Regions from separate parts of the Homo sapiens genome. Here region 1 is linked to region 2. The links come from fine-mapping of genetic effects on gene expression. A gene starts in region 2. The other region holds a variant in brackets. All regions are shown on one strand. Distances are from middle to middle.

Region 1 (15,342 bases), 41 kb after region 2:
CCCCTGCCTCCAGACTTGCTCCTTTGGGGCTGGCCCTTTCTGTTGAGGATATACGCCTCTGCCTCAGTGGCCTCCTGTTCTTGCTTTCACGTTGCCGCCCCCGCCAGGAAGAACAAGGAGCCTGCCCTTAGATGTGTGAAGCGGATGAAGAACCTCTGCTTGTTCATTTTCTCCTGGAAGAGCTTCTGCTCCATTTTCCCTGTCTTTGGGCATTGGCTCCTGGCTGGACTTGGGGAGAGGGTCTCATTCCAGTCCTGCCCGGGTTTATGTGATAAACCATTCATTTTATCCCCCAGCTGGGTGGATAGCACAGGGCTAGGCACCAATAAAAAGAGCAAGTACTTTGTCCTCCAGGAGCTTACAGTCTGTCCAGAAGGCCTTTTTTTAAAATACTTTTTTTTTTTTTTGGAACTGGGCAATCTATTCACATGGTTTAAATGTCAAAAGGTCAAAAGAGAAAAGGTGAAAAGCCCCTCCCCGCCATCTGGTTCCCCACCCAAGAGGCGACCACTACTAATAGTTTTCTGTGTCTCTAAAGCCATTCTGTCTGTGTTGCTCAGTGGCTCTCACAGGGCCCGAGAGGAAAGAAATCAGGACAAGTTGGGGAAGAACTGTCAAATGGCACAGGGCGGCAGCCACGAGGAGAGTGAGATGGGCTTGGGGAGAACAGGCAGGCATGGATATTCTGATAAGGATTCCCAGAGGACTTGGGTATAACTTGCTTTTCCAGCCTCCATCTACTGGTCTGGTTACATAGGCAAGATATTTACATATAGAAATGAACATAGCAATACAAGAGTTAATAGAGATGAAGATTCAATTCCTAGTACAGCCCAAGGGTGCCCTCACCCAGAAGAGGGAGACAGCAGCTATGGGTGCTATGGCCATGTGGGCCATTGTAAAAGACCTGGGCTTCACAGCTGTGTGACTTTGGTTACTACCATCAACCTCTCTAGGCTCTTTTTTTTTAAACTCTTCTGAAACCCTCAACTGAGAGTTTTAAATGTTTTGTTTCATGAACTCTATTAGCAGTTGAAGAAACCCATGGGCCTCTTTAAATGCTTATAATAAAATATATAAGGTTATACAGTAAACAAATTGCATTGAAATTTGGCTGGTTTCTGCACTAGGCGGGCACAGGGGAGCCCTGTTGCATGGTGATTTCTGTTCTGAGGAGGGCCAGAGCCAGGGTCTGGTGACCTTGAACTGTTCTGGGTCTGCACCTGAGAACACCGTCCCCAGGGGACACCAGCTCTCCCCCTGGGGCTGCTTGGGGCTTGGTGGAATTGACTGAGGGAGGAGATGGGGAAGAATTCCCTCCCGAGATTGCTTTTCAGAGAGTCAAACGAAAAATCCATTTTCCCTGATGTGTAGCTTCCCCGCTGTCCCTGTGGGGCCTCTCCTAACTGAAGATGATTAAATATTTCCAGCATTTGGTTTCCAAAAGGTGGCAGCACTGTCCTGGGAAACAGAATCCCAGTGACTTGGGTGGAAGTGTTTGCTGCTAGGTGGATGATGCCTGCAGTTTCCGGCAGCCCTGCCTTGGTTGCCCAGGGAAGGATTCCCAGTGGCCTGCATGAGCTGTGGCTGTGTGACACGTTTCTGGTCACCCGAATCCTAGCCTTGGAGACAGTCTCCGTCCCTGGGCGAGCTTCTGTTCCTGCGCTGTGGTGGGTCCGCCCCACAGAGACCTTTTGAAGGCAGCGACTCAGCAAGCGTCTCAGGACTGCCCTGTCATCGGATACAGCAGGCAGTTGCCTGCCCACCTGCGTAGATGGCTGCCCCTCTCTTTTGGTGTTTGAGGTGGGGGTTCTGGAGGGAGGTGGGCATTTTAAGCAGTGGAGTCTTGAGTAGTCTAGGCTGAGCTTTTTCTTTTCAAACAATTTCACACTGGCTAGGAGCAGTGTCCAGTGTTCAGTGGATTCTGTTTAGGGCGGGTAGGAGGGCTGTGATTTCCAATCCAGCAGAGTCACATCAGACTCCTAAAGGCGGCAGTTGTGGGGTCGTCACCAGGCGGTGATGTGTCTGACGTGCGTCTAGCTGGGAGGAGCCCATGCCTTAGTTGTGAGGGCACAGACAGACGTTCAAGAATCTGCTAGAATTTTGAGCAATAGAAGGAAGAGACCATTGGAAAGGGAACAGTTGAATGTATGTTCTGACCGGTGGTTACAATGGCTTTTATCTTTAAAGTCTTTGCCTATGGGACCAAGACATGCAATCCCTTAGGAAGATCGCATCTGCTATGCACCATTTTTTGATCCAAGCTGCAGATCCTCCATTTCCCCCATCTTCCGTGTCTTCTGTCTTTCACACGTGGATGCACAAATACATATGTACACATTCATTCAACCAATAGAGGAAAAAACCTCACAAGTTTTATTTACTCATTTATTCCAAAAATATTTCCTGAGCTCTTCCTACGTACTAGGCATTGATCCTGGCCCTGAGATATGCAGTCAACAGGAGAGCACACTCACCACCTCTGTGGGGTTTATATTCTTGATGGAGGAGGCAGGCCATGAGCAGATAAATGAATGAGCTAGAAAAATATCCTGTGGAAATGTGCTCTCCAGAGAAGTGATCTTAGGGTGTGATAGCATGATGGGGGTGCAGGGAATGCTTCCCCGAGGAGGTGACCAATGAGTCAGTGAAATGTGGCCATCAGGGAATGTGTGCCAACGCCTCGGGGTAGGCACACACCTGGCATTTTTAAGGAGTAGTAAGAAGGCTGGAAGATAAAGTCAACAGGGGGCAGGGCAGATCACATGGGGCCTCAGCCTGGGAACGCACTGGACATGGGATATAGCCATTGAAGGCTTTTAAGAAGGGAGTGATGTGGAAACGTACCTCTGATTCAATTCAGTGCCCCATAATTCCCATGCAGGGCACACACTGTGGCTTTGTTTTGTGAGCCTCATAGAGGGACACGGGAAGGTGGGCGGAGCCAGCTAGTGTTTGTGTGGCATTTAACTCTGTGCTCGGCACACCCTAATGGCTCACTGCATGCATGTCATCTAAACCCTGACGGAACCCCATGAGGAGGGGGCCCTGTTACCAACAGTTCATGCACGAGAAAACCTAGGTGCAGAGGTGGCCCTTCACTCGAGCTTGCCCAGTGGGAGGGCAGAGCTGAGATCCGAACCCCAGCCCTGCAGGCTCCAGGGTCCCTGTTTCCTGTTCCTTCCTGGAAATGGAGTCTCTCGGCAGCTTTGTGGTTGTCATCAATGTATTTTTATCACGTGTGAGACATTTTTATAATTTGAATTTCCTTAACCAGTACTAAGATTGAACCCGTTTTTCCTATGTCTTATCTATTTGTTATTGTGGTAAAATAGATGAGACACAACATTTACTGTTGTAACCATTTTTAAGTGTAAAATTCAGTGGCATTAAATACATTCACCCTGTTGTGCCGTCATCTCTACTCTGCATTTCTAGAACTTCTTCGTCACCTCAACTAGGAACTCTGCAGCCATCAGGCAGCGAAGCCCTGCAGCCCCGGTAACCTCCAATCTGCTTTCTGTCATTATGAATTTGCCTGTTCCAGATATTTCATATGAGGAACCACACAATATTGCTCATTTGTCCCTGGAGTGTGTTACTTGGCATAATGTCTTCAAGGTTCACCCATGTTGCAGCAGATGTCAGAACTTCACTTCTTTTTTTTTTTTTTTGAGACGGAGTTTCGCTCTTGTTGCCCAGGCTGGAGTGCGGTGGCACAATCTCAGCTCACCGCAACCTCCGCCTCCCGGGTTCAAGCAATTCTCCTGCCTCAGCCTGCTGAGTAGCTGGGATTACAGGCATGTGCCTGGCTAATTTTGCATTTTCAGTAGAGACGGGGTTTCTCCATGTTGGTCAGGCTGGTCTCGAACTCCCGACCTCAGGTGATCCACCTGCCTCGGCCTCCCAAAGTGCTGGGATTACAGGCATAAGCCACTGTGCCCGGCCCAACTTCATTTCTTTTTATGGCTGTATGATATCTCATTATATGACTATAACACATTTTGTTTCTCCATTCATCTGTTGATGGACACGTGAGTTGTTTCTATTCTGGGCAGGTGATTACATTGAGATGGGACTTTCCTAGCTACTCACTCCAGTTCCAGGGCTACTTTCTGAAGCCCAGAGAACCTGAGTCTGTCTAGGATGGGTGACCCAGCATGTGTGTGGTCAGGGATGGGTGCTGAGCTTTTCAAGGTAACTAACCTCTTAAAAAAAGACCAGCATGGATACCATAATTTTTCTTGTGCTGTCACCAACTCTAGTTTGGTTCTTTTCCTGTCCATTTCATAGAATCATAGTATTGAATGAGATCTCCAGAGAAGTTATTTCATCATTTGCTTCTAAGCATGAAATCATCTCCTGTAAATAAAAATTTAGTCTGTTCTTGAAAGTTTGCAGAATTTCAAGTGGCTGGGTGGGAGCCCCAAATCTCTGCTGAGTGACTCTGGATAGGCCATGCATAACCAGCCTCAGTTTCCCCATGTGTAAAAAGACATCAAACCCCTTCTAAGAGATGAAACATCTTTCCTAGACAGGTTAAGAAGTTTCCTCTTAGTTCAAATCTAATTTCCTTCTTGCTACTCATACTTTAGGCCTATTCCTTTCTCAATGAGAAGCAATTGGTCACCATTCCTCCCATCATAATCCTGTATTCCCTGGGCCATGGCTGTGACGTCTGACATCCTTCAGCTCTGATTAAATAAAAAAGTGGAGTTTCCAGGGTCTAAGGTACATGGATTGCAGTTTCCTTCCTGGTTAGTTTTCTTTTCTTTTCCTTTTTTTTTTTGAGATGGAGTCTTGCTCTGTTGCCCTGGCTGGAGCGCAATGGCATGATCTCAGCTCATTGCAAATTCCGCCTCCCAGGTTCAAGCGATTCTCGTGCCTCAGCCTCCTTAGTAGCTAGGATTACAGGTGTGTGCCACCACGCCTGGCTAATTTTTGTATTTTTGGTGGAGACAGGGTTTCACCATGTTGGCCAGGCTGGTCTCGAACTCTTGACCTCAAGTGATCTGCCTGCCTCAGCCTCCCAAAGTGCTGGGATTACAGGTGTGAGCCACCACGCCTGGCCCTGGTTGATTTTCTTTTCTTCTCCTTGACAACCGGCGCTGCTGTTTGACTGAAAGCCCCCTTCCCTCTGGCATCTAGCCTGGCCCCCAGAGGCCCGGCAGCTCTGAGGTGGCCTCAAGAGAGTTTGGTTTATGTCTTTCCAGGTGACCTGCCACCCCTTTCATCATGAGGAAATCAACAAAGCCTGGCTGTCACCTGCTCACTCCTCAGCTGCCTGCTGTGCAAGAGGAAATTCACACTACACCAATGTCCCCTGAGGCACTAAGCCACTCACATCCGTTTTTCTTTTTCAGAACAATAAATCTGAGAAACCCTGTGCTCCAGCAGGTGCTGGAAGGAAGGAATGAGGTCCTGTGCGTTTTGACACAGAAGATCACGACGATGCAGAAGTGTGTGATCTCTGAGCACATGCAGGTCGAGGAGAAGTGTGGTGGCATCGTGGGCATCCAGACCAAGACGGTGCAGGTGCGTGCAGTCGGGCTGCCCTGCGTTCATGGCTGAGCAGTCCTGGAGACCTTGGTTGGGGGCCTCTTTGGGTGGTGTCTTCATTAGTCAGGACTCTTTCCGTAGCAAGTTAACAGAAACCCAACTCACGTTGTCTTAAATGAGCAAGAGTGTATTGGCTCATGTAGCTGAAACACTTGGGGAAACTGGCTCCAGTCACTGCTGGATCCAGGCCTTGAGGATATATAGGGAGCTGCTTTCCCTGGGTTGATGCCCTCTCAGATGGGCTCTCCCTATGGTGCTGGCAGCTCCAGGCTTGCTCCTGATTTGCTGCAACTCCAGGGGTGAGGGGGGCCTAGGACTGGGTCTCACCAGACCGTCCCGGGATATGTTCATTCCTGAAGCAGGGCAGGGTTGCAGGCACTCGAATGGGCCAGGTGGGCTGGCGTCAGGTGCTCTTCCTGTGGGCGGCAGATGTTTCCCCAAGAAAAATGAACACACAGGCACTGATCAGGCCAAATGCAAAAGAATCCCTAGAGCCTCTCAGAGCTGGGGCTCTCACAGTGATTACTTGGAATTAGCTGCTGCAAATCCTTTGTGGGTTGAGTTAGGGCAGGTAAGATCTAGCTATCTCTACATAGATTCTTCTAGATTAAGTTATTGACAGTCTTACCAAGCTGATCTGTGAGCCAGTACTAAACTTCAATGGACTAGGTGGCCATCAGCCCCAAACTCTTTCTCCTCCAGCTTGCCATGGTGGCTGATATTTTCTTAGAGATTTACTTCTTGGGATGACTTTTGGCTTTTTCTAGAGGAACTCAGAAAGTTGTATTTGGAAGGAGCTGGAGGTAGAGGTCTGGGGCCAGCACTCTTACTGGGTTGGGGCTGGGTAGCAGCGAGGGAGGCGCCGATGGGAGATGGCTCAGGCCGGCCCTGCTGGTGCTCCTGCCACAGTCACTTCCTGCCAAAGTGTTGAAGCCTTTCAGAGTCAGGAGGCCAGCTGCCATTTCTCAACCCAAAGCAACACACTCTGACCAGGATCAAGTTGCTAAGAAAAGTTCTCTGATTGCCAGTGTTTGGCCAACAAATAGATTCTCATCTTCCTCTCACCAGGACATCGTGGGAAGGGGTCCTGTTTGTGAGAGTGTTTAAAGGCAGGAGCTTGGTGCCTGACTTCTTGGCATTTCCTGCCTCTCCTCCCTCCGGCCTCTTCCCACTTCCCTCTCTGTTCCTGGTTTTATCAGCACTGTGCACCATCTACAGGGGTCTGGAGTGATATGCACGGGGTAGGGGGCCCTCTCAGCTAGGTTCTCCCAGTCCAACTTGGCTACTGTTTAAGGTTTTCATTAGGATTTCAGTTGTTTCCATAACCTGTGATGGAGGGAATTGGGAGGTGATCTTACGTATCGTATGATCTTTGCACAGCACTGTAGACCTAACTTCACTGTATCCCACGCTCTATAATCTCGCTTTGATGCCACCAGGTTGGCC[G/A]TTTACTTGGGAATTTGTGTACTGATGCCAACAAGGATTGAATCCCCCCATCCCCCATGCTGGCTGGCTCCTCTGTTCCACTCGGTTCTGTGGACATTGCTCAGCATCTCTTATGTATAAGGCACGAGGCTGGCTGCAGTGGGGAACAGAGCAGCTTGGAGAGCCCGAGTGCACAGGTGGGAGTGTGCGCTTTTGCCCACAGGTGTCAGCGACGGAGGATGGGAATGTCACCAAGGACTCCAACGTGGTGCTGGAGATCCCAGCTGCCACCACCATTGCCTACGGTGTCATTGAGTTATACGTGAAACTGGACGGCCAGTTCGGTGAGTGCCACCTCCTATGGGTGCTGAGGGATCCCCAGCAGAGGATCCCTCAGCAGAGGGACTTGACTGCTTTCCAGAGGACTCGACTGCTTTGGAGACTGTGGGAAGAGAGGGAAAGAGGTCTGAAGAGCGTAGATTGTCCCAAGACATGGTCCCTGGACACATGGGCTGCACTGGGGGAGGGGTGTGGTGAGGGATGCCTGGAGCAATGCCACCCTCTCCTCCAACATTGGTGTGGGGCAAAGTTCCACCAGCACAGTAGAGGGCTGGGCTGTGTCCTCTGGGCATCAACCTGGGCTCTGCATCAGACACACTGGGCATCAACCCCGGTGCCATGATGTCCTATGAGGTCTCAGGCAAGTTGCTGAATCTTGCTGAGTCTTGGCTTCCCTGTCTCTGGAAGGTGAAGGGCATTTCTTCACAGGGCTGTGTGAAGATTTAATGAGATGAGGCCTATGAAGCGCCTGGCACAGTGGTCATTTATTAATTCCTCCACCTTTGCTATTAATAGCATTATCATCATTATTGTTACCCCACCTCCTCTCCACAAGTATGAAGCCAGACATGCTGAACTTGACTTTCCTCTGCTGATCACGAGTGTGTTCAAAGCGCAGAGACCCAGCTGTTGTCACGGAAGAAAATCCAAGCTTTGGTTCAGCGTGTCTGCTCACTTTAGGTGTTCACAGCCCCTTCCCTCCTCATGTTCCCAATGAGAAGAGGTTGTGTTCACTCATGAAAGCTGTGTGACCGCTCCTTAGGGACATGAGTGGGTAAATGTAACATAATAAATTGTGAAGTTTTTTAGGTGTGACAATGGTATTATAGTTATATTTATAAAAATGAGTCATCCTATCTTTGAGAGATGTACACTGAAACATTCACGGATGAAATGGTAATATGTCTGTGGTTTGATTCAAAAATAATATGAGTGGAGCATAAAGGGTGTGAGCATGGGCAGCTGCCGAGGGAAGGAGGCTTGGCTGAGAGGGGACAGTGGCTGAAGCTGGCTGATGGGCACACGCTGGTTCACGCTCCTCCTCTCTATTCCTGTGCAGTTTGACATTTTCTGTAACAGCAGTTTTTAAAAGGGCCGTGATAGACCACGCACATGCCTGCTGCTGCCTCCTGCTTCTCCCCCATTTGTGGAAGGCGGGTGGGGGGCAGTCTCCCGTGAGACAGCTCCTGCCCTCGCTAAGCCCACATGAGTCACTACGCCATTCAGCAGCCACTAGAGGGACTCAAACAGAATGCTCAGTGTCCTCGTGTGCTGCTGTCCACAAGCTGAAGGGTGTTGAGGATCCCTAGGAGAAACAGGCGAGGCACAGAAGGAGTGCACAGAGTCTCCCTCTCTCATTCTGCAAATGAAGAAGCCTGCATTTTAGGGCGGTGAAATGATTTATCTGAGGTGACAGAAAGAGAAAGTGTCAGTTTGAAGCAGTTGGTCAAAGAGGTCTGTCAGGGACCAAGAAATGCTGAGAATACCAGGTGTTGTGGCTTCCTTGAGGCCCGTAGTTCCAAATTTGTGTCCTCTGGGGCGTTTTCGTTATTATTGTCATCTTTCTCTTTGAAAAGACTTGTCTTCCAAAAAAAGTGCATCATGAAGAGGATCAAATTGTTCTTCTAGTCTCTGTTATCTGTATGTGGTAAGTAGGGTCACCATCTGCACTTTTGGGTTTCTAGCCCCCCTATGTCTGCCTTGGTGGTCCTGTCCAGTCTTACTGATGGCCAGTGGTGAATGTGTCACTCCCCCGCAGCTTACTGAGGTATGATTGACACACAGAAACTGTATGTTCAAGATGTACAAGTGATGATTCAATAGACATAGACATTGTGACGGGATAACTACTGAGTCAAGCTAATGAACACATCCATCACCCAGCATGGTTACCCTCTGCATGTGTGTGGTGAGGACACTTACTGTCCACCCTCTCAGCAAGTCTCAAGTAAACACTGCAGTACTATTAGCTATAATCACCATGCTAGATCCCCAGAACTTACCAGCTTACAACTGGAGGTTTGCATGCTTTGACAACATCTCCCCATTTCTCCCAGCACCTGGCAACCACCAGTCTACCCCCTGCTTCTGTGAGTTCAGCTTTTTTCAGTTCCATGTATAAGGAAGACCATGTGATATGCATCTTTTTGTGCCTGGGTCATTTCATTTAGCATCCTGTCCTCTGGGTTCATCGAGGTTGGCACAAATGGGAGACTTTCCTTCTTCTTCATGGCCAAAAAGTATTCCATTGTGTAAATACATCAATTTTCTTTATCTATTTGTCCATCAACAGACAGTTACATTATTTCCGTATCTTGGCTGTAGTGAAGGATGCGTCACTTCTGTAACGCTTTCTGAAATCTTGGCATGCACCTGAGGATGCCCAGGAGTGCTCTGCGGACCCTTCGGTGGCGGGGACCCAGGCCTGGGCTGCCACTCTAGGTGGTGGTCCCCATGCGAGCTTCCTCCTGTTTGTCCCAGGAGGTGACCAGACCCTGCCCTGACGCAGCTCTGTGGAGGTAGCCTCTCTTTCTCAGATGGGGTTTGAAAGACACACAGCCTTGTTCTGGCAGGGCTCTCCTGTTTGCATTTCAATTTCAAGGCTTTTATCTTTTCCAGCTTCCACTGTCTTTGAAAATAAACTCCTCTTTGTGCTGCTGAGAAGAGGTACCCTGGGGATATCTCGGCCTTCCCTTGGCTCGTTCTGGATCCTGGCCTAGGAGGCAGCTCCGTGGCTCCTTCCTATGGTGGCTTGGTGGTCAGGTCATCGTTCTGGGTGATTCACTGCCTGATTTTAAACCAGTTCTGCTATTTCTTTTCTTTTTTTTGCCCATCCGTTTTCTGTTGCTCTTGCTACAGAATGTTCTGGTATAGCTTCATAGACATAAACCTGCAGTGGTTGGAAGGGCCCTTGAGAAGACATGCCTGCTCTCTCTCCCTACCTTCCTGGTGGGATTGCATTTGACAGAGATCCTGGTCGTCCTTTGAAACCTCGAAGGGAGGCAGACTCCATCTGTATCCCGGCCAGGTGCTTCAGCCATGCCAGCTGCAATGAGACCCTTTCCTTCACCCACAGCTCCCCTCTCAGGAGACACTTATGCCCAATCAGAAACACCCTTTCATTCTCTTGACCTTCTGCCTTGCACTTTTATACATCTTGGCATTTGCTAGCGTCCTTCAGCACCAACTTCCAGTTGGATGCCTTGTGGGCGTGAACCTGTTTCCCACGCTGCACCTGAATCTGTGCACGTCTCCCCACTGGCCCTAACACCATCTCCCTGCTTCCCCACCTCGCTTTCCTTAAAGACAGGGCCTTGCTCTGTGACCTAGGCTGGAGTGCAGTGGCGGGATCATAGCTCACTGCAACCTTGAACTCTGGGCTCAAGCAGTCCTCCCACCTTGGCCTCCCAAGCAGCTGGGACTACAGGGGCTCTGCCACAGACTCGTAACTGGCTACTCTGATTCTTTCCTGTCTGTTCCATCCTAGCAGTGTAGCTAATGGGATTGTTTTAAAATTGACCACTTCACTCACCTGCTCAGACACCCTTCTGTGGCTCTTTGTCCCAAGAATGCAGTCTGCACCATGTCACGCCTTATGGGCCAGCCCAGCATGGGTCTCGTGCCTTCCCTCTGGTCACAGTGCCACTTGCCCCGTGATCTCACTGAGGTCTGGGGCATGGCACACCCTCTCCCACCCCCAGGCCTGCTGCGCCTCTCTCTGGGCGTGCTCTCTGCCTCTTTTGCTCCTGCCCAACCATCAGATGGCTTTTCTGGTTCTCCTTCCCTGTGACGGGGTTCAGGACATGCAGTCCTAAGATATTTTAAAGTGAAGGAATTTGAAAAGATGACAGAAGCAGGAAGGTCACTGTGACCTTCCCCTCACCCTTCTCCCTGTAGCAGGTCATAAAACCTCTGAAGGATTTTCCAACCTTCCCCTGATGCAGGTTACAGACCCTCAGGGGAGAGGCGCCGTCCCTCTGCCTGGAGGAAAGGAGCAGCCGTGTCTCCCGACACAGGACACAGAGAGGTGAAGAGACAGGCCTTGCTGAGTTCCTGGATGAATGGCCTTTCCATCATATGCTCTGCCCTGCCACATTTCTCCACCACTGTCCCTCAAACCTAGCAAAAAAGTACTCAAATTTAACTATTTTTTCACATGTTCATTTTCTTATGAAGGCTTCCATGTCATGTAAAACTGCTATTCGGTAAAGTTGCGTGCTTTTCCCTTTTTTTTTTTTTTGAGACTGAGTTTCACTCTTGTTGCCCAGGCTGGAGTACAATGGTGCGATCTTGGCTCACCACAACCTCCGCCTCCCAGGTTCAAACGATTCTCCTGCCTCAGCCTCCTGAGTAACTGGGATTACAGGTGTGCACCACTATGCCCGGCTAATTTTGTATTTTTAGTAAAGACGAGGTTTCTCCATGTTGGTCAGGCTGGTCTCAAACTCCTGACCTCAGGTGATCCGCCCGCCTCGACCTCCCAAAGTGTTAGGATTATAGGTGTGAGCCACCGTGCCTGGCCTCTCTTGTTAATCTGTCTGTTGTGATAGGGGCCTCAGCCATGAACCTAGGATGAGCAGAAGGAAAGATGTTTTTCCTCCCCTCCACCCGCTGGTCACTCTGGCCTCAGCCCTGTTCAACCGCTGTCCCCACTCTTACCACACTCATCGTCAAGGCCTGGTTGTAGTCCTTTGTATCTGTGGCTGTGAGCACGGGGCCTGGTATAGGGAATTTTAAAGATTTACATTGTTGCATATTTGCTGGCTGGCTGGCTGGGGATGGATGGATGAAAAGAATGAAGGAATTAATTGGTGGCGCCCTCAGGGAGCTATGCATGGGTGAAGGTGAGAGTGTGGTGTGTGGTTGGTGCTGTGGATTCTTAAAATGCCAGTTGGTTCCACATTATTTTGGGGACCTGGCAGGGCTTCTGGCAGAATTTGAGGCTGTGTGAATGGTCAAGGCTCCTGTCCTCAGGGAACAAAGTTATGACCTAGGTGCTGGTTCACACTCCTGCACCCCTGTGGCTAAGCGCAAAGTGTGGAGGAGTAGGGTCAGCCTGAATGCTGGTGTGGGCCAGGTGGGTAAAGCCCAGGGATCGTTTCCTTTGTCTTTAGACAGCCATTCTTCTTTTTCTTTTCCATTCTATCTTTATGAGCATCATTAATGCCCACAAGCAAATGAAAATATTTGCTAATACTCATGCCTTCTACATTTCAGCAAATACGGGGCCCTGCCACATTTTTATTCCATAGCCTTTGCTTACGTACACAAGTTAGTAAATAGAATCATAAAGAGAATGCTAATTCTTGAGCTCATTTACTGTTTCTGCTTAGCAAGGACGTAATAACTTACATTTTTATCTACACCTTAGATACCTTAGCTGGGTTCTCAAATATGGAAGTGTTTGAGAAAACATTTCTTTGCCTTTTTTTTTTTTTTTTTTGGAGACAAGGTCTTGCTCTATTGCCCAGGCTGGAGTGCAGTGGTGCGATCTTGGCTCACTGCAACCTCCGCCTCCAGGGCTTAAGGGATCCTCCTACCTTAGCCTCCAGAGCAGCTGGGATTACAGGCATGTGTGACCATGCCCAGCTCATTTTAAATTTTTTTGTAGAGACGGGGTCTCACTATGTTGCTACTCTCAAACTCCTGGGCTCAAGCAATCTGCCTGCCTCAGCCTCCCGAAGTGTTGGCATTACAGGTGTGAGCCACCATGCCCGGCCCTTTTTATTATTTAAAAAACTTTTTATCGCCTGGAGCAGTGGCTCACACCTGTAATCCCAGCACTTTGGGAGGCTGAGGTAGGTGGATCAACTTGAGGTCAGCCTGGCCAACATGGTGAAACCCCATCTTTACTAAAAATACAAAAATTAGCCAGGTGTGGTGGCAGGTGCCTGTAATCCCAGCTACTCGGGAGGGTGAGACAGGAGAATCGCTTCCAGCAAACGGAGGTTGTAGTGAGCTGAGATTACACCACTGCACTCCAGCCTGGACAACAGAGTGACTCTGTCTCAAAAAGAACAAAAACAAAACAACCAAAAACAAACCTTTTTATTATGGACATTTCCCACATGTTAAAAAGTAGAGATAATAATGTAGTGAGCTCCCATGTGCCCACCATCCAGCTTCAGTGACTAGGGCAATTCATGTTTTAGCCATAACTTCACCATCTCCTTCCTCTCCTGCTGGATTATTTTGAAGCAAATCCTAGGCATTATATTGTTTCATCTGTAAATATTTTAGTACCTTGAAATGATAAGGCTTTTGAAAAAAGACTAGCTTTGCCTTTGTAGAAACAGATTCAGAGAGAATGTATTCTTTTGTGTTTGCCATTTTTCACTCAACATGTTTGTGAAATTCATTCATATAACTGCAGACATCAGTATTTTATTTTTTATTGCTGTATATTATTCTATATATTATAGAAACATTGATTTCTTAAAAATATAATCACATAACTACTTGGCCACCTAAATATACTGGCAATACTTTTAAAATATTATCAGTGTTCAGATTTTCCTAGTTGTTTTGTGCATGTCAGGTTTCATTTGTCTGTTTAGAATCAGTTTGTTCAAATCAGGATAAAATAATATTTCCAATGTTTTAAAGATTGTGTCCAGCCTGTTCAGAGAATATATATTAGGGAGCTTTATGTAAGAACAGCCATTTCCTTATTTGTTGGAAGTGGCTGGGCTTTTGGTCAAGCAACATAATGTGTGTAGGGATCGAATTTTATGGGGAAGATGGATGGGTCTTCTGCTCCACTGAGTTACGTCTAAGATGTGCCATCAAGGCTGGGCTGACCCTGTCCAGACTTGTTGGCACACCTTAGACTCAACTTTACCTAACTTGTCCTTTTCTCCTGCACTACAGAGTTCTGCCTTCTCCGAGGGAAGCAAGGTGGCTTCGAGAACAAGAAGAGAATTGACTCTGTCTACCTGGACCCCCTGGTCTTTCGAGAGTTTGCATTCATAGACATGCCAGATGCTGCGCATGGGATATCTTCCCAGGATGGACCATTAAGTGTTTTAAAGCAAGGTATTGCCAGCAGGGCAGGAGTAGTGGGCAGTTGAGGGCCAACTGAGCCCTGTATCCCAAGAGGTGGTGTGGCCTTCAGCATCAGTGACCCCTCAGTGACTCACAGAAAACATATGAGAAGAGAGGTGATGCCGCCGAGGCCCAGTCCACTCGGCAGGACTCACCTCGGTTGGATCTTAGGGAGCCCCAGGTTGTGGGTGCTGTATTTTAGGAAGGGTGGGGAGAATGACGCTCCATGGGGTAGGGGTCGGAGACTGAAGAGTGAGGCAGTCAGGGGCTTGGCATTTTTCTTTCATTGTAAGCACAGAAGCCCTGTTGACTACTAAGAATGGCTCATCAGCCGCGAGGATGGAGAACCCGTTCTGCATCTGTTTTGTTATATTCTGGGCTTCATTGTCAAGACAAGCAATGCTTTGTCAGCCTTGCAAAATGCTCTCTTGGAGGCTCTTTATCCACATGGCATGGACTGCATGGTGCCAAAGAGGAAGAGGGGCCATGCCCAGGATGTGCCTGCAGCAATTCCTTTTGCTCCTCACAGCGTATTGTGCTTTAGAAAGCTGGTTTCTTTTGTCGGGGATGTGGGGGCGCAGCATATAGGAGGAGATGGGCAAGGAAAAGGAGAAACAAATAGGTGAGAGCTTAGCACAAAGAGCTAGGAACCGCTCCGTGTGCGCGCTGGCTTGGAGGGTAAGCACAGAAGCCCTGGTGACTACATCTGTGGAGCTTCGATGAGTCCCAAACCAGGATGCTTTTGTAGCAAAAATGTCCGTATTTGAAGAAATGACAACAAAGGCCCAATTTTAATATAAGGCTTTCCTATCTTGGCTTCCTTGAGATGGATAAGTGGGTGCAATTTTCAGCTGCCACTTGAAGGATTTTGTCATTGTGGGTTAGAACCACAGCAAAATGGCCCTGCAGCCACTGGGTAGCAGAAGGCAGTCCCGTGCTGCAGCTTCCTTCTGTCCTGCCCACAGGCCCACCCTT
Region 2 (14,396 bases):
GTAAGGCTAATCATTCCTAGAGAGGAGGTCCAGCATTACCCGGGGCCAGGCTTTTTGGTGAGCAAGGAGAGGTGAGAAATGGATTTGGGGAACTTTGAAGCATGCTTGCTCAGCCTTCTCTGTGAGGCCCTAATCAAAGGCTGGTCTTTCTATGGTATGTTTCCCCAAAACTCCCTCTGCCAAGTCAGAATTGCTGGGACCTTTTAAAGCTTTTTCAGCACGTCACTCCTCTAGTGGTTGTAAGCTTCTTAAAGGCAGGAATCCAGATTTATTCAGGTACACAGTAGGCACTCAACAGTATTTGTAAAATGGAATGGAATTCCAGGGAATCAGAAACTAATAATCATAGCTACCATTTATCAAGTATCTGCTGGTATATCTAATCACAGTAACTCAGTGAGCTAGGCGTGATTATTCCCACTTTCCAGATAAGGAAGTGGAGGTTTGGAATAGTGGTGACAGCAAGTAAGAGGCAGAGTTGGAACTCAAACGTAGCATTTGCACCAACTCCAAAATCATCAAACAGCCATGTCTTAGTTGGCTGCCCACACTGACACTGGGATTTGCTTGGTTTGGGGTGGTGTTGATTTTTTATTGTTTTTTAATATAAGAAAGTTAGCAAAAGAAGATGGATTTACTTGCAGAAAGCAAGCTGACTTGATTTCTGAAGTCCCTGTGTGCCCATTCCCACTGGATGTCTAGACTCCTTACAGAGATGGAGCCTCAGAATGAAATGACAGGTACAGTTCTTTGGGGGAGAAAAAAAGAAGCTTGAAGGTTTCAACATATAGTATTAGAAAAAAATTCCATTTCTACCAACAGTTTGAAACGAAAGCTTTCATGATATCACAGGTGCCTAAGGTGACAGAAGCTCTACTTGCAGGGTTGTTTTCTTTTCCATCATTCAGACCAAACACATTTATTACACTGGTGCTTTTAGCAATCAGTCAAGATTGAGTCAGGTGCCAGGATAATTTTCCTTGCCAAATTGCTTTTTCCATTGCAATTAGTCTTTTTAAGGACCTTACCAAACAACAAGTGTGTACACAATTCTCATACTCCCCTTCCAATTATAACTCAGCTAAGAAGTTGTATCAGTAATAAATTGTTATAGATGAAAACATCAACCACACCCACTCTATCACCAGTCTCTCCCTGTATTCTTAGATAACTCTTGGAATCAGGTGTAAGATTAAGAACGGCTCGTTTTAAAAAACAGAATGTATTATACAATCCAAAAATATGTCATTTAAATCAGTTCAGCTGTCTGGTTTACCCTAGTTGGGATTCTTTACAAAAGCTCTGGGCTTGGCCATCACCTATTTGCCCTCTAAAATTATTTTGTACAAAGCTGTGTCGGCCACTGCTCTCGAAACCCAGTTCCTTTTTTTCCGGAGCACAAAGACTACATTTTCCAGCCTGTCTTGCAATTAGGAGAGACTCTGTGACTGATTTCTGGCCAAAGGAAGGTACAGTAGGCTCCCTTTATCTGCAGTTTCACTTTTTGTGGTTTCAGTTACCCACTATCAGTCTCCATCCAAAAATATTAAATGGAAATTTCCAGAAATAAGCAATTCATAAATTTTACATTTGTGCTATTCTGAGTAGCATGATGAAATCTCATGCTGTCTTGCCCTGTCCTCTCCAATGACACAAATCATCCCTTGTCCAGCATATCCATGCTGTCTACACGCCTGCCTGCTGGTCACTTTGTGGCCATCTAGGTTATCAGATTGGCTGTCATGACATTGCAGTGTTTGAGTTGGATCACCCTTATTTTATCTAGTAATGGCCCCTCTGTGCAATAGTAATGATGCGGGCAATTGGGATATTCCAAAGAGAAGCTGTAAAGTGAGAAAGTGAAAGTTCTCAATATGGAAAGAAAAAAATTGTATGCTGAAGTTGCTAAGATCTATTTCAAGAACCAAATCTCTCTGTGAAACTAAAGAAGAGAAAAGAAATTTGTGCTAGTTTTGCTATCTCACCTCGAACTGCAAATGTTATGGCCGCTATGTGATGTAAGTGCTTGCTTAAGATGAAAAAGGCATTGAATTTGTGGTGGAAGACATGAGCAGAAACGTGTTCCAGTTGATCCTGGCTGGGTTTGGTGCCATCCTCCATTTCAGGCATCCACTGGGAGTGTTGGAATGCATCCTGTACCCGAAAGTGCCGCTCCCATAAAAATCTCCCATGAGGGAGTCTCCGGGTTCTTTCCTTATCTATCTGCCCGAGGTGTCCATGCTCAGGGCAACCTCAACAACCTGGAGCTGAGCCTCCCCCAGCCTGATTCCTGAAGGAATGAGGACTGTGGTTCTTCCTCCCCACCCACCCCACCCAAAACCTAGAAGTACCTTAGTCAGACTGTTTACCGAGTAGGAAATAAGCTACTATTGTATTTGAGCCATTATAATTTGGGACTTCATTTTAGCAGTTAGCTTACCCTAACAAGGACAGCTGATCATTGTACTTCTCATCCTCTATCCTTATTGTTTATCTGTCTGCCTTTCCCGCTATACTACAAAGCCCACAGACCTGGAGGGCATGAAGCACATTCTCGTTGGTCACCTTATATCCTCAGTACCTAATATGGCACCCAGCACCTAGTAGGTCACTAATAAATATTTGTTAAAAAGATGTTAGGTGCATGGGCTTTACTTCTCTATGCTGGGTATAGCTCACCTGGATACTGGACAATATTTAAAAATAACGATAATCAGATGAAAAAAGTTTGTATATCTCTGGATCATATTATTTTGAATATTTCTGTAAATTGGACATCTGGTGGCTGACTACTGGTATTCATCACAAATTTCCTTAATGCTGATAATAACGTATGTTTCTCCATGAACAATGGACAAACAATACAGAAGTTTTTACTAACTTTGTTTATGTAATGCCACTTTCTTTTATGGCTTTTTTTTTTTTTTTGACACACAGTTTCTGTCACCCAGGCTGGAGTACAGTGGCACGATCACAGCTCACTGCACCCTCAACTTCCCAGGCTCAGGTGATTCTCCTGCATCAGCCTCCCGAGTAGCTGGGACTACAGGTATGCACCATCACACTGGCTAATTTTTTGCATTTTTAGTACAGATGGGGTTTCACCATGTTGGCCAGGCTGCTCTCTAACTCCTGGGCTCAACTGATCTACCCACCTCAGCCTCTCAAAGTGTTGGGAATACAGACAGAAGCCACTGCGCCTATCCTGTAATGCCACTTTCTTTCATGAAAACAAGGGCGGCAGATAGAAGATGTCTGGAAATTCTTTGCTGTTTCTCCCATTGAGAGGTAGAATATACCACCCCTATCTTTGAATCTAGGCTTGTTGTGGAAATTACGTTCTGGGTGTTTAGAGATTATGTCATAAGACTTCTAGCTTCTGCCTTGTTTCTTTTTCTTGAACATTTGCTTTTGGAGCCCTGAGCCTCCACTATAAGAAGTCTGACTTCCCAAAAACCACCATGATGAAGAGGCCACATGTAGGGCTCTGGTTGATAACCCTCAAGTTCAGTCCCACCCTCAAGGCATCCCTGCCAGTGCACTAGACATGAGATGCTATGGTCTGAATGTTTGTGTTCCCCCAAAGCCATATGTTGAAACTTAATCACCAATGTGATAGTTTCAGGAGGTGGGGCCTTTGGGATGTGATTAGGTCATGAGGTGGAACCCTCATCAATGGGATTAGTGCCCTTATAAGAGACTTAGGGACTTGTTTTGTTTGTTCTTCCCTTCCACCAGGTGTGGACACATTGAGAAGTCACTATCTATGAACTAGGAAGCAGGATCTCACCAGACATCGAATCTGCTGATGCCTTCATCTTGGACTTCTCTCTCAGCCTCCAGAACTGTGAGAAATAAAGTCCTGTTGTTTATAAGCCACTCAGTCTATGGTATTTTATTACAGCAAACCGAATGGGCAAAGACATGGGTGAAGTTATCCAGGACCCTCCAAACCAGGCCATTCACCTTCACCAGCTAAATTCCACTGAGTGACCCCAGTCAGTGCACATGGAACAGAAGAGTCACTCAGCTGAGCCCTGCTCAAAGCCCTAACCTACAAAATTGTGAGATATAGTAAAGTGGTTGTTGTTTCAAGCCACTAAGTTTTGGGGTAGTTTGTTATACAGCAGTTGATAATTGGGACAGCAAATTATTTCACATTTCCTTGTTTGTCCAATAATATTTGCATTGAGACTTTTGATTTTGACAATATTGGTTGATCATTTGCTAGCTGCCAAGTAATTTCAGTTCTTCTCCTATCTGTATCCGTGCCTTGCAATTGAATAAGAGAAGGTTGGGACACCAAGAGAAACAGATTTAATTCTGGACCATATTTAACCCTCTATAAAGCTTTTTATTTTAAAGCAGTAATTAGTAATATGCATTGGCAATACAGTCTCCAGTTTAAAAAGCACTTTTGGGATTTAGGGAGGTAAATGAAATCAGTTTTAAAATATATATCAATGTATGCCAAATTTTATTTTAATTTATGTTAGTAGCTATGTTCCTCTGGGAAGCAATCAATATGGTAAAAGGCAAAATTATGCATATGTGAAAAATGTAGTCTTAATTTAAAGGCAACTTTAGCTGAAAAGTAATTAATAAAGGCAAGGAAACTAATTTTTATTGAGTGCTACTATGGGCTGAGTACTTTATATAATCTCATGACAATGTTATAAGTAATTTTTAAATGGGAAGTTATACAATTTGCCTAAAGTCACTCAGCTGGTAAGTGGTAGGCTGGATTCTACCCAAATCTGATGGATCCAAAGTCTGTTTTTCTCTCCTTTGCAGAGGTTATTAATCTGAAAGCGTCCAGGTCTCCAAATGTGGTTCTCAAGGAACTAGGAAGCAATTATGGCAGCCATGCAGAGCTGGTTTATTGGTGTATTCATTTACGAAATAAATCCCGGTAATGAGTTTTATTGACTTTTGCTGCCCTTTGCGTATTTTTCCTTAGCAAGAATCTAGGCATAGGGTAGGAAATACACGACACCCAATAGATGTGTTTCAGAAGTTCTGTAAGTTGAAACATAGTTTATATAACGAATCTTTTTGAAAGCAGATGCTGCTTACCATCATCATTAGGACCACTCCAATTGATCTCCTGTGAGATTTTCTTTCCATAGCCCTCCATTTCCTCAAAGGGGATATATCTATATGGAATAAGAAGATTGGAGTTCCACGTTTTCTTTTTATTTACTTTTTTCCAATTGGGCTAAAAGTTTCCATGTTGTATATGTTCATCTGAAATCTTCAAATAGTCTATTTAACAATAATAATAAGCACAATTATTTTTTTAAAAAAGTTATGGCTGTGCCAGAACCTTTTCATCCCCCCACCATTGGACAGGGAGAGCAGCAGACTGGGGTCAGGTGAGATCTTGAACACAAGTCATCCCTCTCTCCCAACACAGACCATGCTCCTACACTGCTTGGGTGGGGGGACCCCTACTGCACTTCTGCACTTCTTATTTTCTGTTCTGGAGAGTCTACCCTATGGTGGGTTAAAACTCAGATGGTGCTGAACAACCTGGGTTAAAATCTTGGCTCTGTCTCTTCCCAGTTGTATGAGCATTCCAGTTTGTGCCTCAATTCCCTCATTTGTAACTTGAAACCCCCAAATAGTTGTAAGGATTAAATGAGCCAATCATTGCATGTAATGTACTCAGAAGCATGCTTGGTGACAGTAGACAGAAAGTGCTACATAAATAATAGCAGCTGATATTATTACTATCTTCCTCGGGCATTTAATTAAAAGACTAGGCAGGACAAAAAAAAAAGTGACAGAATTTGAAGCCACTTAGTAACTGTTGCATCAAAAAGTTCACCCACTCTGAATTACAAGTGGTAACTATCTAGATAGAGGACTGGGGCTTTTTGGGGTGGGAACCTGATGAGTATGCTGTTTATGAGGATATTCTTAAGGTCAGTACCCTAGCGGGGGATGCAATAATCTCTGGCAACAAGCCAGAATCATCACCGTATAATTTTATAATGATAGAGAACCAATAGCATACATGAAAAGTCTCTTGACAGGGCTGGGATTCTTTCTTTCGTCCAACATCTCATCACATTAGCAAATCAGGGGCCTACCACCATGGACCATTTCGAACCACTTCTTCATCCAATAACCACTAATTGTGCACTTATTTTGCGCTGGGTACTGCAAGGATGTGTACTGCCCCACAGTCTAGGTGGAGAAACAAACAAAAGGATTCATTTCTTAATTCAACAATTATTTACTGGATAGCTACCATGTGTCAAATCCTAAACTAGGTGCTGGGCATAGGGAACAAAACAGACCAGCTGCCCTCATGCTGCTGACATTTTACAGGAGAGGATAATACATGAAATAAGAGGCACACAGTCTATCAGATGGTGGTGAGTGCAAAGAGAAAAATAAAGCAGAGGAGGAACTAGGAGGTGTTCCCGTGGGTGGGTGGGCAGCACTTTTAATTTGGATAGTCAGGAAAGGCTTTACAGTGAGGTGGATAATTGCAATCTAGAGATATGTTTAAAGCATAGCGGGGCCCAAGGGAAAGCGCTGCCGGGCTTCTCTACCTGCCCTCCCCGAACAGCCTTTAAGACAGCCACACAACTCCATACTGTGTGAGCTCTCGCAGGGCAGAAATTTCATTTTCTCTTACTCTTTGCTCTCAGCTTAGTAGAGAGCATTGCACAGTGAAGACGATACACTGACTGAAAGTGTCACTGAGCAATGGGCTCGTAACCTGAGGCACACAGAAACCAAACTGTGGCACAGGCTTTTGAGAAAAGAAAAACTTCTATTGCCAGTCAACTGGCAAGGAGACAAGAGGCAAAGCTTAAATCTGTCTTCTGGACCTGGGAGCGGGTCAGGCGTTTTTGGCATTTCTAACCAGTCCCAGGTGATGCCAATGCAGCCTTCTGCGGGGCGCGCGGTGTTCACAATTAGAAAGCTTTCCCTCTTGCACACGCCCGGGAGATTTTGGCTCTGCCTCGCTGTAACAACTTAAGTAATGGTTAATCGGTTTCAGCTGGTCCTAATGTTACAAAAAGAGCTAATATTTAAGTCAGTTCATCAGAAAGCAATGTTTGAGCACCAGCTATGCTGAGATTCCCTCGTTCAGTATTCGTTGAGCACCCAGTGTGTGAGAGCGCCTGGTTTTGCCCTCAAGGAGCTTAGAGTGGAGTTTACAGGAATGAATCACTGATTAGCGGCAGGCCTAAGTGTGGGCACTGTCGCACCACACACCCAGATACTACTCCAGGCACGGGCATTAGGGGCTCCCACAGGCTGGACAGGCCTTGGACTTTCCTGGTTGAACCGTGAGGCCGCGGTGTCAGTCCACACTCCACTGTGGGTGGCGGGTTCGGCCCCGCGAGGAGGCGCCGCTCTCAAACCCCACGGTCCCGCGCAGCGAAGAGGCGAGGCGGCCGCGGAAGGCAGGCGCAGCCCACTCTTCCCGAGAGGCCCCGACATCTCCCGGGTGAGTCCCGAAAAGCGCGCGGGGACTCCGGCTGAGCGCTGGGCCGTCAGCAACCCGGCTCCCAGAGAGTCACACGAAGGAGGGGAAGCGGCTCTCTCTGGGGCTTCTGGGAGGTCTGGCCCGGGCCCCTCCCGCAGCCTCCGGCGGCCAGTCCCGCGGCTCTGGGGCGCCCGGACCGAGCAAAGGTCCCGGCGGGCGGGCCCTCTCTCCGCCCTCCCCAAGCGCCCGCCCCCCGCCGGCCCAGCGCAGGCTCCTCCGACTCCGCCAGCGCAGGGGGCGCGGCTGCCGGGGACCCAGCAGCGGGCGCGCGGGTAAGTGCGCGGCGGGCGCGGGCTGCGGGATCCGCTCCGGGCTCCACTCCGGATCCTCTTTGGTCTGTTTGGGTGTCCCGGGCCGGGGGCAGCCGAGGCCGCGCGGCGCTTTCTCTCTGGGCCACCCTCCCCTCGCTCCTTCCTAGGGGAGACGAATCGATTGGCTGCCCGGCCGCCGGAACGGCAGGTCCCGTCGCTCCCCTCGCCTCCCGCATTCCCGGCCCGGTCCCCTCCCATCACCGCGTCCCGCCCCAACTCGCAGTCAGCATCCCCTTCCCATCCTCTCCCCGTCCCCGCTGCCACTTCCTTCCTTGGATGTTGGAAGCGCAGCTGGTATTTTCGTTCTCCCAACCCCCCAAACCCCCCCTCCCCATTCGTTCATCCTTTGTGTTCCGGTCTCTTCTCTGGGTGCTGCGGAGGCTCTCCCGGCTCGGGGGCGTGTGTGCAGGGAGGCGGACCGCGGAACAGATACGGAGTTCAGTCTCTCTGGACGGAAAAAAGTCCCCCTCCACTTTGCTCCGGTATCTAGAGAGCTCCTAGCTTGGGGAGGAGGCCAAGCCCCACTCGGTGTGCCTGGCATGCGCTGGAATGGCTCTCAAGAGCTGCCCGCGTGGCTTCCTTTGGTCTCCATTTGAGGACCTCTGACCCTTTCCAGAGCCGCTTGCCGTCTGCACCCCGAGGGGAAAGACTAGAGGGCACCTCTTAGAAAAGCGCTGGTTGTGGACTGAACACACCGACCACCCACTCCTCCAGAGTCTACTCTGTCCAGAATAGTGAATGGGATAATGAAAGGGATGGATGGCTTGCGGTCGCTGTCCTCGAGACGCAGGCAGGTGGGGCAAGTCCAAGTGGAATGAAAGGAGTGCTGTGGGGTTGGAGAAGCAGCTGAAGAGTGAAATTAATTGTCTTCACAATCTACCACCACCAAGCTCTTTTTCTAAAGGAGAAGTTGAGCCCAGACCATTAGGTAGATCTGAGAGAGAAAGGGCCCAACCCCCTAGCCACGGTCCCTTGGCTAGGTTCTTTGTTATTGTTGAGAGAGGGTCTCGCTCTGTCACCAAGGCTGGAGTGCAGTGGCACTATCCTAGCTCACTGCAGCCTTGAATTCCTGGGCTCAAGGGATCCTCCCATACACCCGTAGCTGAGACCGCAGGTGCCTGCCACCACACCGCATCTTCTCTATTCTTACCCAGACTGCCCTCTGTTACCCACTCCACTTCCCCAAAGCCTTTGGCGCCTCACTCTCCTTCTCCTTTCGAGCTCCTGCCTGTCTTATGACCATCATTGCGTTCACATACCGATTTTTATTTTAGAAAGAAATGATGAAATATTAATTTGTCTTCTCATTAAAAATGAGCTCAGGTACTGGGCTGTAGGGATAGGAAGATAAAAGATGCCACCTCTGTTCTAATTTAATAGACCCAATTGCACTTTGCTATCTAGAAAACTAAAACTAATTCAAAGTATGCTGAAATTGCTAACAATGAGACAAGTAGACAAGTACAGCCATGTTTCGTCTCCCCAGATAGAAAGGAAATGACACATGTTCCATAGCAATGATTTCTGTTTCCACCGTAACTGAGGTTTACCTTTTTCAAGGGCACTTTCTTATGTTACAGAATGAGTCATATGAGGCCCACATTAGAACAGAAAAAAAGCTGAACAGGGAGCCAGCAGAGTAGAGTGGTCAAGGGCACAGGCTTTGGAGTCAGGTGGACCTCGGGTGGAATCTTGGCTCAGCACTGATTCTCTATGTGATGTTCAATCCCCTCCAGTCAAAGACCTCCAGGAACACACTGTCAGTTCAATAAGTTGGTTTATTTCTCCTTAAAGTGAGGGACACCATGGGGAACCCTGAGATGTCTCAATAAGAGGTGTTAGAAAGGACAGAGGATTTGGGCATGTAGTAGGTGATTTGGGGAAAGAGGGCTTTGCTCTGAATTGGATGTGGTCAGGGAAGCAGGGGAAGTTCTGTGATTGAGTATCCTCGTAAATCTCGTCAAAAATGAGAGAAGGCCAGAGAGAGGCTATAGCTGTGATTGGTCAGGAAGCAGCAGTCACTCATTAGGACTGCTAATGATTGGAAGGGGGGTGGTATTTGATCATTTTTGTGCTTTGAACGTGTTCATGTTTTGTCTGTGTTCAGGCATGATTACAGAGAAGCCTTGTTTTCATGTTGATTTATCATGACAAGACTGGCCTTGCCTGATGTTGATGCTCTGTGCCATTATTCATGGTCAGCAACACCAGGGCCTGATAGTTCCAGGCCAGTTCCCTGATAGGGCTGCTTCTTTCTTTGCTGTGATCTTGGGCAAGTTACTTAACATCTTTGAACCTCAGCTTCCTCACACTGCCTACTTCAAAGAGTTATTATGAAGATTAAATAAGGAAATGTGTATAAGGCAGTAAGACCCATGCCTGGAACATAGCAGATACTCAACAAACAGTTGCTCCTCTCTTTGTCTAGAGTATTTGATGTTGAAGTTTCTTTTCTAGAACTCTTCAGGCAGAGGCCCAGGGTTCAACCAGAGCTGCTTTTAAGAAGAATCCTGAATGGAGTGTGAGAAAGAATGAGGTTTCTCTTCTAATTTAAAAACTAGATAACTCCATGACTGAATCAGTCTTAACAGGCAGTAGTGAATATAGTTATCTTCTCCTGCAGTCATTACCTTGGCAACTATTTTTAAGATTCTTTGTTCCCAGTGGCTCCAGTTGGCTGTGTGCTTTGCTAACTTTGTGTCATTGTCCTGCTTTCTTGGTGTCTGCCCCACAAGGTCTCTTGTCCAAGAGTCTGACTCAAGCTAGGATATCCTTACTGCATTTGCTTTGGCCTTTTTAGTTCTCATCTGCTTTCAGCTGGGAAGCCAGACTAAGGACTGTTTGCTAATACAACTTTTTTTTTTTTTTTTTGAGACAAAGTTTCGCTCTTGTTGCCCAGGCTGGAGTGCAATGGCAGGATCTTGGCTCACTGCAACCTCTGCCTCCCAGGTTCAAGTGATTCTCCTGCCTCAGCCTCCCGAGTAGCTGGGATTACTGCCTGCCACCATGTCTGGCTAATTTTTGTATTTTTAGTACAGACCGGGTTTCACCATGTTGGGCCAGGCTGGTTTCAAACTCCTGACCTAGGTGATCCGCCCCACCTCGGCCTCCCAAAGTGCTGGGATTACAGGCATGAGCCACCAGGCCCGGCTGCTAATATAACTTTTAAGGCTCTGTGCGAGAGTCCGTGATCTATGTAACAACTGTGAAGTGCAGTGAGTTTTTAGGCCATGAGCTATTTGAGCATGATGCCTCCTGAGGCCATTTTCATCTTCTCCCAAATTGGAGCATTGTGAAAATGTTAATCCAGAGTCTGACTTTTGGCTGAGACATGACTGTGCTTGTCTGTGTCGGGCAACTTGAGTTCTAGATCCTTCATTCATTTGGACCTGGCCATACTCTTTAATCTTTCCTGGCTGACTAGTTATCTTATGTGTTTGAGAATGATGGTGGCAGTGTATTGTCCCCTAATGCTGCATGATAAACTCTGTTGTTCCTAGCCTATATTTTGGTAGATTTATTATATCAAACATTCCTGGAAATAAAGCCAAAAAAAGCAAGAATAGAAAATGAGCAAAGGATACAGTTAAATACAGAAAGTCTTTCAACAAAATAAAAGATGCTTGATTTTATTTGTTTTAAAATAACACAACCTAAAACTAGGCTGAGATTCCATTTCTCACCTATCAGACTTGCAAAAATCCAAAAGTCTAATGATACACTGTTGCTAAGATGGATACTTTTGTACATTATTGGTCAGACTGCAGAATAGCACAACTCCTACAATTACAGATGCATTTACCCATTGTTCTAGCAATCTCTTTTCTAGGGATCTACCCTTCAGATACATTTGTTTGTTTATGAAGAGGACATCCGTATGGGGTATTTCCTGGGGACAGCTTTAATATAACACAAATTTAGAAATAACCCAAGTGGTCAGCAACATGGGACAAGTAAAATGCGCAATGATACATCTGCATAAGGGAGTATGTGGCAGAAAGCAAGATGCTGAGCAGTGTTCAGACTCCTTTTAACTACACCTCTATAAAGAAATATGAAGGAAATATGGCTGAAGGGGAGAGGAGTGAAAGGGTTGCTGGGGCCTGGGCAGGAATGGGATTTCTCAATGTGTATCCTTTACATCATTTAGATTTTTGAACCGTGTAAGTATAATTCACATGTAATAGTAATAAAGAAACCTCCAACTTTAACTTCACCAGGAGAATATTCTGAGTCCCATGATTAAAAAGTCTGAGTCTAATAAACAAAGCAATAAATAGCCACCTCCAGTTACTCTCCTTAAAGCACCCTACCCTGCCAAGAAGGCAAATTAGCTGTTTGATGTTAGATGGAAAAAAAAAAAACATGAAAAATTAATTTAGGAATTTCCTCTTTTTTACCGTCTAATCCCTGTGGGGGAGGATTGGTGTCTTTACTAAGGTTTTCCCACCCACAGCAGATGGGTTTTATTTTGTTTTTTAATGGCAAGCCTGATTTGGTTTCTACAGAAACCTGTGTGATCTGAAGGCAAGTGCGTGAGTGAACTCCCTTTCAGCTTGTCCCAGAAAAGAATTAGAAGCCATAACAGTGGAGATCCTGACAGCAGTGGTAAACTAAAGCAGTTGTTCTGTGGCTCTTTTCCTGGACTAGCAGGACGAGTTCTCACAGGCCCTCAGGGAGACCCAGTCCCATGTTTGGCAAAGTAAATCTGTTCCTTTCAAATTCCCTCTCTTGGTAACTGGCTTTTCCTTCTCATCTCCCAGCCTGCACCTGGGATACCAGCATGACACCCCAGGGAGCCTTCTTTCTTTCATCACCACCCTTCACCAAGCGAGTGTCTTTTCTATCCTTATGCCACTGACATAGTCCAGAGCGTTGTCATCTTTGTCCATCTCTAATCTTGTTCCCCTGCAGTCCCTTTGCTATTTTGCTTCTAGAAGATTTTTCTAAGGGATCATTCTGATCACAGATCCTCCAGTGGCACCTGCTTCCCTGGCTGCCCTGCAGGAGAGGCAGGACATGGATTGGGGGCCTCCCCAGCTTTGTCTCTGGCCCTTCTCCACTCTGGAATGCTGCATTCCAGTGCAAGAGTCAAGCTCAGAGCTTGACCAGTCTTTCCAGTCTGTCAAAGTGGTGGATGGCAGATCAATACAACACAATGTCTCCTGGGCCATCTCAAGCTCACTGGTAACCCATTTGCTTGGCACTGTCTTCCCCATCCCTCCATCACCTCCTGCAAATTTTGTGCTTTCATAATGGCTGCTCCTCAGCTACAGCATCCATATAGTGCTCCTTTGCCTGGCTTACTTCTACTTAGCCTACACAATGCAGCTTGGATGTCATCGACTTCAGGAGGACTTCTGTGACAGTATGCCTCTCTCCAATGAGATTTAGATGCCTTTTTCTTGGTTCTTTCCCTGGAACAATCTCTGCCAGTAGCTAACATAAAACTAAGCTGTTTATTTCTCCATCTGGCCACCAAACTAGTAGCTCATTGAGGAGAGAAATTATTTTTTGTTTCTGTATCCTAAGTGCTTCAACACAGTAGTATAGTAGGTACTCAAGAAAAATTAGTGAATGATTCAGTTGATGATTTGGTAAATAAATAAATGAGTATTCCATTGAATGCAAGATTCTTATGCATAGCATAGTGACAGATAAATTACAGATGACAGCCTGAGCATCCTTAGTCATGCTGCTTTGCAGTTCACCTTATCAGAAAGGAACTTCCTTGCATATTTTAGAATTTTTTCCTTAAATGTTCATTCCTAGTGTTAATATACAAGAACAGGGTCAGGTAGCTACTGCTTCATAATAATCTAAGAAAAGATACTGTACAAAAGAACCAGTGATCGATAAGACAAATGATTTCCCATGCCCCGAAAGAGATTCATGTTAAGGTGGATTGAGCTAAAGTCTGAGCTTATTCTCATCTCTTAAATCCTAAGAGCTGTGTGACTGTGCAACTGTGCCAAGCGCCAGGGTGCAAGCAAAAATAAAAAGCAGTTCTTGTGCATTAGAGCTTTTCATTTTGACCATGGATAGTTTGTAAAAATGTTATTTTCTTCTTTTTGTATGTGGTAACTTATTATACATGCGTGTATATATATATTGGGCTATGTGCAATTTGTGTATTGTGAATGGTTTAGAACCATTGCCTATGTTTCTCTTGGAGTACAGTATTTTAAAACTTGATTTATGAAAGTTTTTAAAAAATATGTTAAGCATTTTTGTTCCCTCTCATAAATATTACAATTATTTTCTCAGTTTGCCCTTTGTCTTTCTAAAGGCCCTTCTCATCCTGCGATTGTACAAATATTTCTCTATTTTTTCTAGTACTTTCACAGTTTCATTTTTCCTCAAAGAAACCTCTTGATTTCATTGGGAATTTGCTTTATTTATGGTATGGGAGAGGAATTCAGTTTTTTTCTTTCCAGATAGTTAGCCCATTGTTCCAACAGCATTTATTAAATAGTCTATACTGCTTCTCTTGAGTGTAATATTTTCCTTTTTATATCTTCCAATGTATCTCTTCTTTTCTCCTCCTGCTAAAGTATGACTGTGCCTTTATTTTC

What was found. PIP is the estimated chance that this variant, and not a neighbour inherited with it, causes the effect.
Region 1: its variant is fine-mapped to the expression of GSDME in lymphoblastoid cells (CAP, PIP 0.95). The same link has a PIP of 0.9 or more in lymphoblastoid cells after a statin.

What each region holds. Positions count from the first base shown.
Region 1 is chr7:24,709,240-24,724,581 of GRCh38, reverse strand. GSDME (gasdermin E) reads left to right here. Exons shown (of 10, transcript NM_001127453.2): 4 at 5,364-5,535; 5 at 7,208-7,328; 6 at 14,194-14,358. Among named protein-coding and RNA genes, the nearest start is that of GSDME, 41 kb to the left of the region's middle. RefSeq lists enhancers at 1-198, 3,922-4,021, 5,519-5,708, 5,829-6,028, 6,315-6,902. The variant G/A (reference allele first, on the strand shown) is at 7,006.
Region 2 is chr7:24,750,782-24,765,177 of GRCh38, reverse strand. It overlaps GSDME (gasdermin E), which reads left to right and starts at 7,714. Exons shown (of 10, transcript NM_001127453.2): 1 at 7,714-7,782. It overlaps LOC124901820 (translation initiation factor IF-2-like), which reads left to right. Exons shown (of 3, transcript XM_047421177.1): 2 at 7,241-7,516; 3 at 7,609-8,854. The coding sequence ends at 8,322. RefSeq lists enhancers at 1,554-1,848, 7,215-7,444 and silencers at 6,565-6,714, 7,525-8,104, 8,115-8,164.